Linked DNA regions of Homo sapiens: region 1 is reported to be linked to region 2. The links are microRNA targets in miRTarBase. Many come from high-throughput screens and were not tested one by one. Region 2 holds a microRNA gene; the other region holds the end of a gene's coding sequence.
Evidence for each region. Region 2 holds the annotated microRNA hsa-miR-1295b-3p (AAUAGGCCACGGAUCUGGGCAA, at 2,922-2,943, opposite strand). A microRNA usually pairs through its seed, bases 2 to 8, with sites in the 3' UTR of a target mRNA and lowers its output. Matches are read on the target gene's strand: a 7mer-m8 pairs with bases 2 to 8, a 7mer-A1 pairs with bases 2 to 7 and ends in A, and an 8mer does both.

Region 1: the mRNA of AGBL3 is a reported target of hsa-miR-1295b-3p. The part of its 3' UTR that is shown has no 7-base or 8-base seed match.

Annotation. Positions count from the first base shown.
Region 1 is chr7:135,134,569-135,138,975 of GRCh38, forward strand. AGBL3 (AGBL carboxypeptidase 3) reads left to right here. Exons shown (of 17, transcript NM_178563.4): 17 at 273-1,210. The coding sequence ends at 693. It also overlaps a transcript of CYREN not described here. Among named protein-coding and RNA genes, the nearest start is that of TMEM140, 11 kb to the right of the region's middle.
Region 2 is chr1:171,100,313-171,104,719 of GRCh38, reverse strand. It overlaps MIR1295B (microRNA 1295b), which reads right to left and starts at 2,981; the gene lies at 2,922-2,981. It overlaps FMO3 (flavin containing dimethylaniline monoxygenase 3), which reads right to left. Exons shown (of 9, transcript NM_001002294.3): 3 at 747-935. MIR1295A (microRNA 1295a) reads left to right here and starts at 2,914; the gene lies at 2,914-2,992.

The DNA.
Region 1 (4,407 bases), not on the chromosome of region 2:
CCAGAGTGGCTATTATATTAGGAAGGCTGAGGTTAGAGTAGGTATCCAAATAAACATATCCTCTAGGCATTTAGAAATACAGGATTGGAATAGTGCTAAAAAAAAAATCATGATCAGAGATGAAGACTTCTAAATGATGGTAAAATTCTTAAACTTTAAGAAGTTATGAACTTACTAAAAGGAAAAATATTATTTATACTATGACAACATACCTAGGACTACAAAGTAGGTCCATGATGGACAAAAATTCACGTATTTCATTTCTTTTCTAGACTAAATCCGGCTACTTGCAGAAATATAAAGAAATACAGCACATCTTGGACAGCACCCAGAAATCACCCTTTTGTAATCCAAGGGGATGTTATGGCAAACTCTTCAGAATGGGTCCAGTCTAAGCCCCACAGGTCATTGGAAAGTTTATCACCTCTCAAAGGCCCCAAGAAGAATAAACATTCTCAAATCTGGGCCATAAAGAATGAAGACATAAAACCTCTCAGCAGCAAGTGGGAGACTGCTTCTTCAAGCTTTGGAATGGATGCAAATGTTCTAAAATATAAGAGTCTTCAAGCTGAAGAAACTAACCAGCAAAGCTCTAAGCATACAGCCCTCCATCTAACTAAAAATAAGGATGAGCAGGCCAATAAGAATGATGGACAACCCACCTTATATCTGAAGTTCCAAAGGGAGAGTTAATCTAGCTTTATACTGCTCTGAGAACTGTGAATGAAGGATAACATATGCTTATGTAGTAAAAAGAAAAAAAGGAAAGCCCTCCCCTTCCCCTTTCCCTATCTCTCCCCTTACACATGCATATGCATAAACTAAAAATTTTAGATATCCCATCTTCTGTAGTGGGAACATCTTTCAGAGATTTAAAAAGAAATCCAGAGAAAATATGGAAAAATATTAAAGCAGATATTTATATTTAGTTTTTATCAGCATGGAAAAAAATCTCTGAAGTTTTGATTTCTTCCAAAACTACTTACACATTCGACACCAAAAAAACTTAAGAACTCAAAGTAGGAATGACATATAATATGTCACTGATTTTAACCTCCCTACTAGACACTTTAATCAATTAGTCAACAAACATCATTTCCTGATTTTCTGTTATATCATTAGTGTGCTAGGAACCATTTCTCTCTACTAGGAGATTACCACATAATTGTACAGATAAAACATACCTGAATAAAATGATTACAGAATAAGATAAAGTGTTAAGTTGTGCACTTCCAATGATTAGAAAAAATACTGTATATTAAAAGTTGCCAGTTGCACAAAGCAAAAGTGTGGCACAACATGGCACTGAAATGCATAGACTGTGGTTTAAAATAATCATTTTATTTCTCAAAATGTAGCAAAGGTGTAAAGATGTACAGTTTCCTTTACAGCGAATTGGTTTACATCTCCAGCCATTTATTCATGTGAACACTGGAATAAGTCCAGCACCTCAGTTTGTCATTCATAAGGCAGTGAGCACTGGGAGGGATTTGTGAAGGACACACAGAGGAGCAAGTATGTCAGGCAGAAGAGTCAAGATGCATGTAGTAAGTCAGAAAACAGAATCAAGCAGCCTTGAGTCATAGGTCAACAATGGCATCCATTAGAGGATGAGGCTAAGCATAAGAAGGGTCAGGTAGGAGAGGTACATTAAAAATACAGGCCACAGCCTAATTACAGCTGGGTGGAACTATGAAGATCTGGGGTTGAGTGGTCTACTCTCAACAGTATTTCTAGTAGCTAAAGAGTTTCCAAGGAGAGCCCACTGCACTGTTAAAAGAGTAACTATTATGTTTTAAAGGACCATGACCATAGATTTCCTCAGGAATCTTTAATGTCTGGTGGGAAATAGCTATCTTCTAAATACATTAGATGGTGCTTTGAAGGCAAGTATCCTGGTTCTCAAAGAGTACCCCAACTTTTGGTATAAAATTCTCATCCTTAGTGATTATCTTGGGCAAGAGCAGAAGTCTACTTGCTTTTGGGATGCCCTCTGCCAGGTAGGTGCTCGGGCTTGGGAAAGCCAGAGGTTAATGTTCCGGATCATAGCATTTATTGTAGCTGACTTCAGGATGGAGTAAGAGTTCTCAAAATTCCATTGGCCCTTCTCCACAAAGATCAGGACAAAAGCCTAAACTCTGGGAAAATATTTTTAATTCAGTGAAATGTCATTTGAATCTTCGACTGCCTAAGAGTTTGAAATTGTAAACTCTGGAATGTATTGTCTTTGTGGATGACCAAAAAAGGTGATAAACCAGTTTCCTGGAAGATTTAGGGATGCACAGATATTACCTAAACAATTTTACCTTGGTCCATAATTGCACTCCTTGTATTTGATACAAATATAAGATGCTTTACCCAAAGTAAGAGGATTGGCAGTCCACTTCCTCACTATGCTACAATACTTTCAGTTTTCTGAGCATGCCACTCTCTCATAAAAGCTATTTATTCTCTCAGCCCAGCATCTCCTCCACCTGGCAGCCCCTACTTCTTTAAGATTCAACTCAACTGCTGCCTTCTCTGGCAAACCTTCCATATATTTCCATAGAAATTTAAAACAACTACGATGAATATGCTGACAGTTCTAATGGGAAAATTGGACAATGCAAGAACAGATGGGTAATATAAGCAGAGAGATGGGAACTAAGAAACAAAAAAAAAATGCTAGAAATCAAAAACACTGTAACAGAATGAATGATGATGGACTACCCAACAGGTAAGACACAACTGAGGAAAGAGTCAGTATGCTTAAAACAATGTCAATAGAAACTAGCAAAACTTAAATGCAGAGCAAAAAAGAATGAAAAATTCAGAATATCCAAAAACTGCAGGACAATTTTAAAAGGTATGTAACGTGTAATGGGACTACTGGAAGTAAAGGAAAAAAAGGAACACAAGAAATATTGAAGCAGTAATGACGGAGAATTTCTCAAAATGAACGACACCAAACCACAGATCCAGAAAGCTCACAGAATACCAGGAATGATAAATACCAAAAAAATCAAAGACCAAGAAAAAATCTTGAAAAAAACACCTTATGTATAGATAAGCAGGGATAAGAATTACATCAGACATCTCTTCAGAAACCATGCAAGAAAGAAGAGAGTGGAGTGAAACATTTAAAGGGTTTAAAGAACCACTGTCTCAGCTCAGGCTGCTGTAACAAAATACCATAAACTAGGCTGCTTAATGAAACAATAGAAATTTATCTCAGTTCTGAGGCTGGGAAGTCCAAGATCAAGATGTCAACAGATCCAGTGTCCAGTGAGGGCAGTCATCTTGGTTTGCAGGTGGCCTTCTTGTTGTATCCTCGCATGGTAGGGAGAGATCATCCCACGTCTCTTCTTATGATCACTAATCTCATTCATGAGGGCTTCACCCTCATGACCTAATTACCACCCAAAGGTCCTGTCTTCTAATACGATCACACTAGGGGTTAGGATTGCAACATATGAAATTTGGGGGATGCAACATCAGACCATAACAACCGCTGACTACAGTTCTGTATCCAGTGAAATTGTCCTCCAAAAGTGAAAGAGAAATGGACTTTTTCAGACAAACAAAAATTGTGGGAATTTGTCATCTCTAGAGCTGCTCTTTTTTTTAATGTTAAAAGAAATTCTTTAGAAAGGATGAAAATTATACAGGTCAGAAATTCTGGCCTACGTAAACAAAGGGAAAGCAATAGAAAAGGAATAAATGAAGGTAAAATAAAATCTTTTATTTTTCTTAATTACCTAACAGATAATAGTTTGTTCAAAACAATAACAGTGTATTCAGAAATTATAGCTTATTGATAAGTGAAATGAATAGCAGCAATGTTGTAAGGAATCGGAGGGAGGAATTGGGAATACCCTGTTACAAAATACTTGTACTACCAAAGAAGCAAGTGGTATAGGGTTATTTGAGAAAGGATTGGATTCATTGTAAATGTATCCTGTAAATTCAAGGGTAAAAAAGAGGTAGAATTGATATACTAAAATAGGAAAAAAATCAAATCATACAAAATATTCAATTAAAATAGAAGGAGGTAGAAAACAAGTGGAAGACAAAATAATAAAGGTTTGTTACATGGGTAAATTGCATGTTGTGGGCATTTGGTGTACAGATTATTTCATCATTCATGTAATAAGCATAATACACAATAGGTAGATTTTCGATCCTCACCCTCCTCCCACCCTTCACCCTCAAGTAGGCCCTAGTGTCTATTGTTCCCTTCATTGTGTCCATGTGTACCTAATGTTTAGTTCCCACTTATAAGTGAGAACTTGTGGCATTTGGTTTTCTGTTCCTGCATTAATTTGCTTAGGATAATGACCTCCAGCTTCACCCATGTTGCTGTAAAGGACACTATTTCATTCTTTTATATGGCTGCATAGTATTCTATGGTATATGTGTACCACATTT
Region 2 (4,407 bases):
GTATTTTTTGTAGAGACATGGTTTCTCCATGTCACCCAGGCTAGTTTCCAACTCCTGGACTCAAGCAATCTGCCTGCCTTGTCCTCCCAAAGTGTTGGGACTATAAGATGGGCCATTGCACTTGGCTCCTGTTGTTTATTTTATTAGTCCTTTCAAATAATTAACTTTCAATTTGTACATATGCTTTTTTACATTTTATAAATTTATTTTATATCCCCTTCATTCTATGTTCTTTGAGTTTATTCTGTCTTTCTTTTACTAATTTTTTTAAACTTTCTTACCTTATTTTTAAACTTTTTCATTTTCTAATATAAACATTTACATTTATAATTTTCATGAAAATATAGCTTCCTATGTTTCCCACAAGTATTGATACATAGACTAAATTAACATTCAGTTATAGATATTTTTAAATTCCCATTGAAATTTCTTCTTTGACCTATATGTTATTTAGATAAAAAGAGTTTTTAATTTCCAAATTCACAGGTATTTTATATTTATTTCTTTGGTATTGATTTCTAAATTAGTAGTGATTTAGTCTAAGAACTGTAGGTGGTCAAATTTTGTGAATTTTCTATGTATCCTTGAGAAGAAGGTAATTCTCTAAACCTAGAGTTAGAGAGGCCACACTGTTAAAAATGTTGACAAATTAGAAAGGGAAACTGAAAGGAACAAATGAGAATCCAGTAGTAGACATAGACTTCTTCAGCATTATGACAAGAGCTAAATTGTTGATAACATCTTACCTTAAATTGTATGTACTTCAGGAGGTTCTTTTCTTTGGCAAATGCAATGATATATTCCTGGATCTTGCTGTTGTGCATAAAGTTGGGGAAGTCATCGGGAAATGGGAAGTCTGGGAAACACATCATCTCTTTGGAAGAGTTGGAAAAGACTGATTTGTAAATGCTAGCCCTGCCCTCCTCTGCATGGTCCTGTGAATGTATAGTATCAAATGGAAGCGAATTGGTAAATGAGTATACTGATCATGGTCAGGGCTGGTTCCAAGTAATTACAGTCATCCCTTGGTATCTATGGAAGGTTCCAGGACCTCCGTGGTTACCAAAATCTACGAATGCTCAAGTCTCTTACATAAAATGATATAGTATTTTCGTATAACCTATATACAGATACTTTAAATCATCTCTAGGTTACTTATAATACCTAATGCAATGTAAATGCTTAATGAATAGTTGTAGTGTATTGTTTTTTGATTTTGATTTTGATTTTTTATTTTTATTTTTGGATTTTTTAAATCAATGGTGGGTTGAATCTGTGGATGCAGAACTTGCAAAAACAGATGGCCAAGTGTATACTTATTTGAGTCATCCTTTATCCACAGTAAATTCGGTAAGACACACATAAATTAACTTCACTTCAACAATTGATGCTAATCATGGAAACTTACTAAGGGAACTTAGGATATGGAAGAATACCTTTCTTAATATCTTTTAAGAAAATATATCTTAATCTTTTCTAAGGGAAACAAATTTTAAATTTCATTATGTCCTTTAGGCCTATGTAACTAGAATCCTTTCATTCCCTTGAACCATTAAATATGGTGACAGAGATTTTTCAAAATTCAACCTTGCATAATTTCAATGTGTCAACTCATGAGCACAAGCATCTAATGGTCAATTTATAAAAGCAAACAGTAACAAGAGGTTGCAACTATTGATCAGATTTGTAAATGTAAGCATTTTAAGACCTAATTTTTAAAAAATTAACCTTAGAATTTCTATAATGTATAAAATAAGGTTAACTATTTTGAATCTAACACAGAATTTATGGGCATTGCATGCCTTTTAAGCACTTATGTAAGTAACAAAGTTTTAGCTTTCAATGATGTAAAAATATCTGAATTTTCTTTAACTCTAAGGAATTATAGAACTATGCTAATAAAGCCTTAGAGGAAATGTTAAGTGATGATGAATAAAGAAAAAGAACATTGAAGAAAGAATGATCAGTAATGAGAAGTTTAGGATATTGTGTTGTGGTTCTTTAGCCACACACTGAAATAAACTGGGAGCTTTAAAAAACACACTGAGCATTAGGTCCCACTCTCAGAGAATTTGATTTAATTGACAGCAAGTTTTAAAAGCTCTTCAGGTAATTTTAAGGTGCAGCCAAGTTTGTCAGTCACAATGTAGAGTTCAACAAATGGAAGCTCATGACCAACAGGCTACAGTTACTGTGGAAGAGCTTACCATAGGACACATCTGTTACAGCTGTGAGCTCTGCAAAGCAAGCTGTTGAATGAATAAAAGGCATTAAGTTAAAAAAAAATACTGGTTGGAGCATGATTAGGAAGAGGTGGAGCCTTGGTTTAGCTCTGTTGAAGCATCAAGGTACTTATATCTCAAGTTTCATGATGAAAGATCAGATTGTAGATCTCTATGTGTAGTTGCTAGTTCATAGTGGAAAGTACTGAGCACTAGAAACTTCTAATTAGAGCTCATCTAACTGAAAGTTGTCAGGGCTCCCAGAACATGAAATTTTAGTATAATATTGGAATATTACAATCACGTCAAAAGCCAATGTGGCTGCAGTTTCATTATTGACAAATAATTAATTGGCAGATTAGTTGCCATGTTCATTTCAGAAAGCAGCGTGTTCTTTAAATAGGACATGAGTTTTCTGCTGCTCACATGGTTTGTTGACTCTGCTATAGGCATGTGGGATGGGGAAGTGCAAAAATTTGTAGCTTTCTGTGAGTTGGGTAAGTTTAAAGAGATGATAATCAGCATAAAGAGAGAAGAAACATTAAAGAAAAAAATTGATACATAGTCCAGAAAAAAATCAGAGGAAGTTAAAAAAGGGAGGTATTCCCAGAAGAAAGCCACTATTCATAAAACTTCATGCAAAAATTCATATGATTTACTGATTTATTGTTTGGGGAGCTCCTGAGAAAAGAGGACATTTTGCCCAGATCCGTGGCCTATTCAGAAATGTGGCCTGTGATTAGGCCGCAGATCTGGGTGAAATGTCCTCCTTCTGTGACCAAAGAAGGTGAGGGAAATACATCATCGTGGCTCTAGATCAGGGTTAGAAGTCAGAACTAGAAGGGCATAGAAAGTGCTGTAGTAAACAGCTCCAACAGTTTCAACTATATGCACCCTTAGTGTTAGCTAAGTTTTAACCAATGTTTGGATCTCTCTGAAATTTAAAAAAAGTTAAGATAATGTAAAATGATGATGTTAGAAACCAAAGGGAAGGCAAATACAAAATTAGAACAATTTTATAACAATCTTATAATGTGAATACTAAGCCTATTGCTGCAGACTTCTAGTGATCTGAGAAACACTGCTGTTTGCTCCATCATTTGCAATCTATAAGCCCCCTCACAGTAGTAAAATAGGAAACGCTGAAAAACCAAAGGTATTAGTTTCTTGTGGCTGCTGTAATAAATTACCACAAAGTTAATGGCTTAAAATAATAGCAATTGATTCACAGTTCTAGAAGTCAGCAGTCGGGAATCACTATCAGTAGGCTGAAAACGAAGTGTGACAGTACCATGTTCATTTTCAGAGGCTCCAGGAGAGAATCCATTCCTTGCCGCTTCTGGCTTCTGGTGGATGCTGGCATTTCTTATTTTTTTCAGTGGCAAGACCCCTCTTGTACGCCTTCACTCATGGCTCCTCTGGCCATCATCAAAGATAGAGCATAGCATCTTCAAATTTCTCTCTTTCTGTTGAGGTCATCACATCACCTTCTCTCTTCTCTTTGTGTTAAATCTCCCTCTGCCTCTCTCTTTTAACGATGCATTCATTATAGCGTTTGGGGCTCACCCACATAATGCAGAAAAATCTCTCCATCTTAAGATTTTTAACTTAATTATATTTGCAAATACCCTTTTCTCTTGTAAGTAAGATAACATTTACAGGTTCCAGGAATTTGGATGTGATATCTTTGAGGAGGGGCATTGTTAAATTGTTCAGCCTATTACAGGCCATCCTCTGGTTCCCAAGGATTCACATCCATCCCATCTGCAAAATACATTAACCCAATCCCAACATCCTCAAAGTCTCAACCCATAGCAGCATGAAATCAAGTCTCAACTCTCATTTATATATTTTCAATTCAAAAGTCCAAAATCTCATCATCATATAAATTATCTAAATCAGGTATAAATGAGACTCTGGATATGGACCAGGATGAGGCAAAATTTCTATCTGTGAACCTGTGAAACTAGAAAACAAGTTATCTTCTTCCAAAATACAATGGTGGGACAAGCATGGGTAACCGTTATCGACATTCCCATTTAACCGGGGAGGAAAAAGGAGGAAAGAAAAGAATCACTAATCCCAAGCAATTTTGAAATCCAGTAGGACAAATTCCTTCAGGCTTGAAGGCTTTGGCTCAGGCCTCTGCCCTCAGGGCCTGAGGCTCTACCCTCTGGGCTATCCT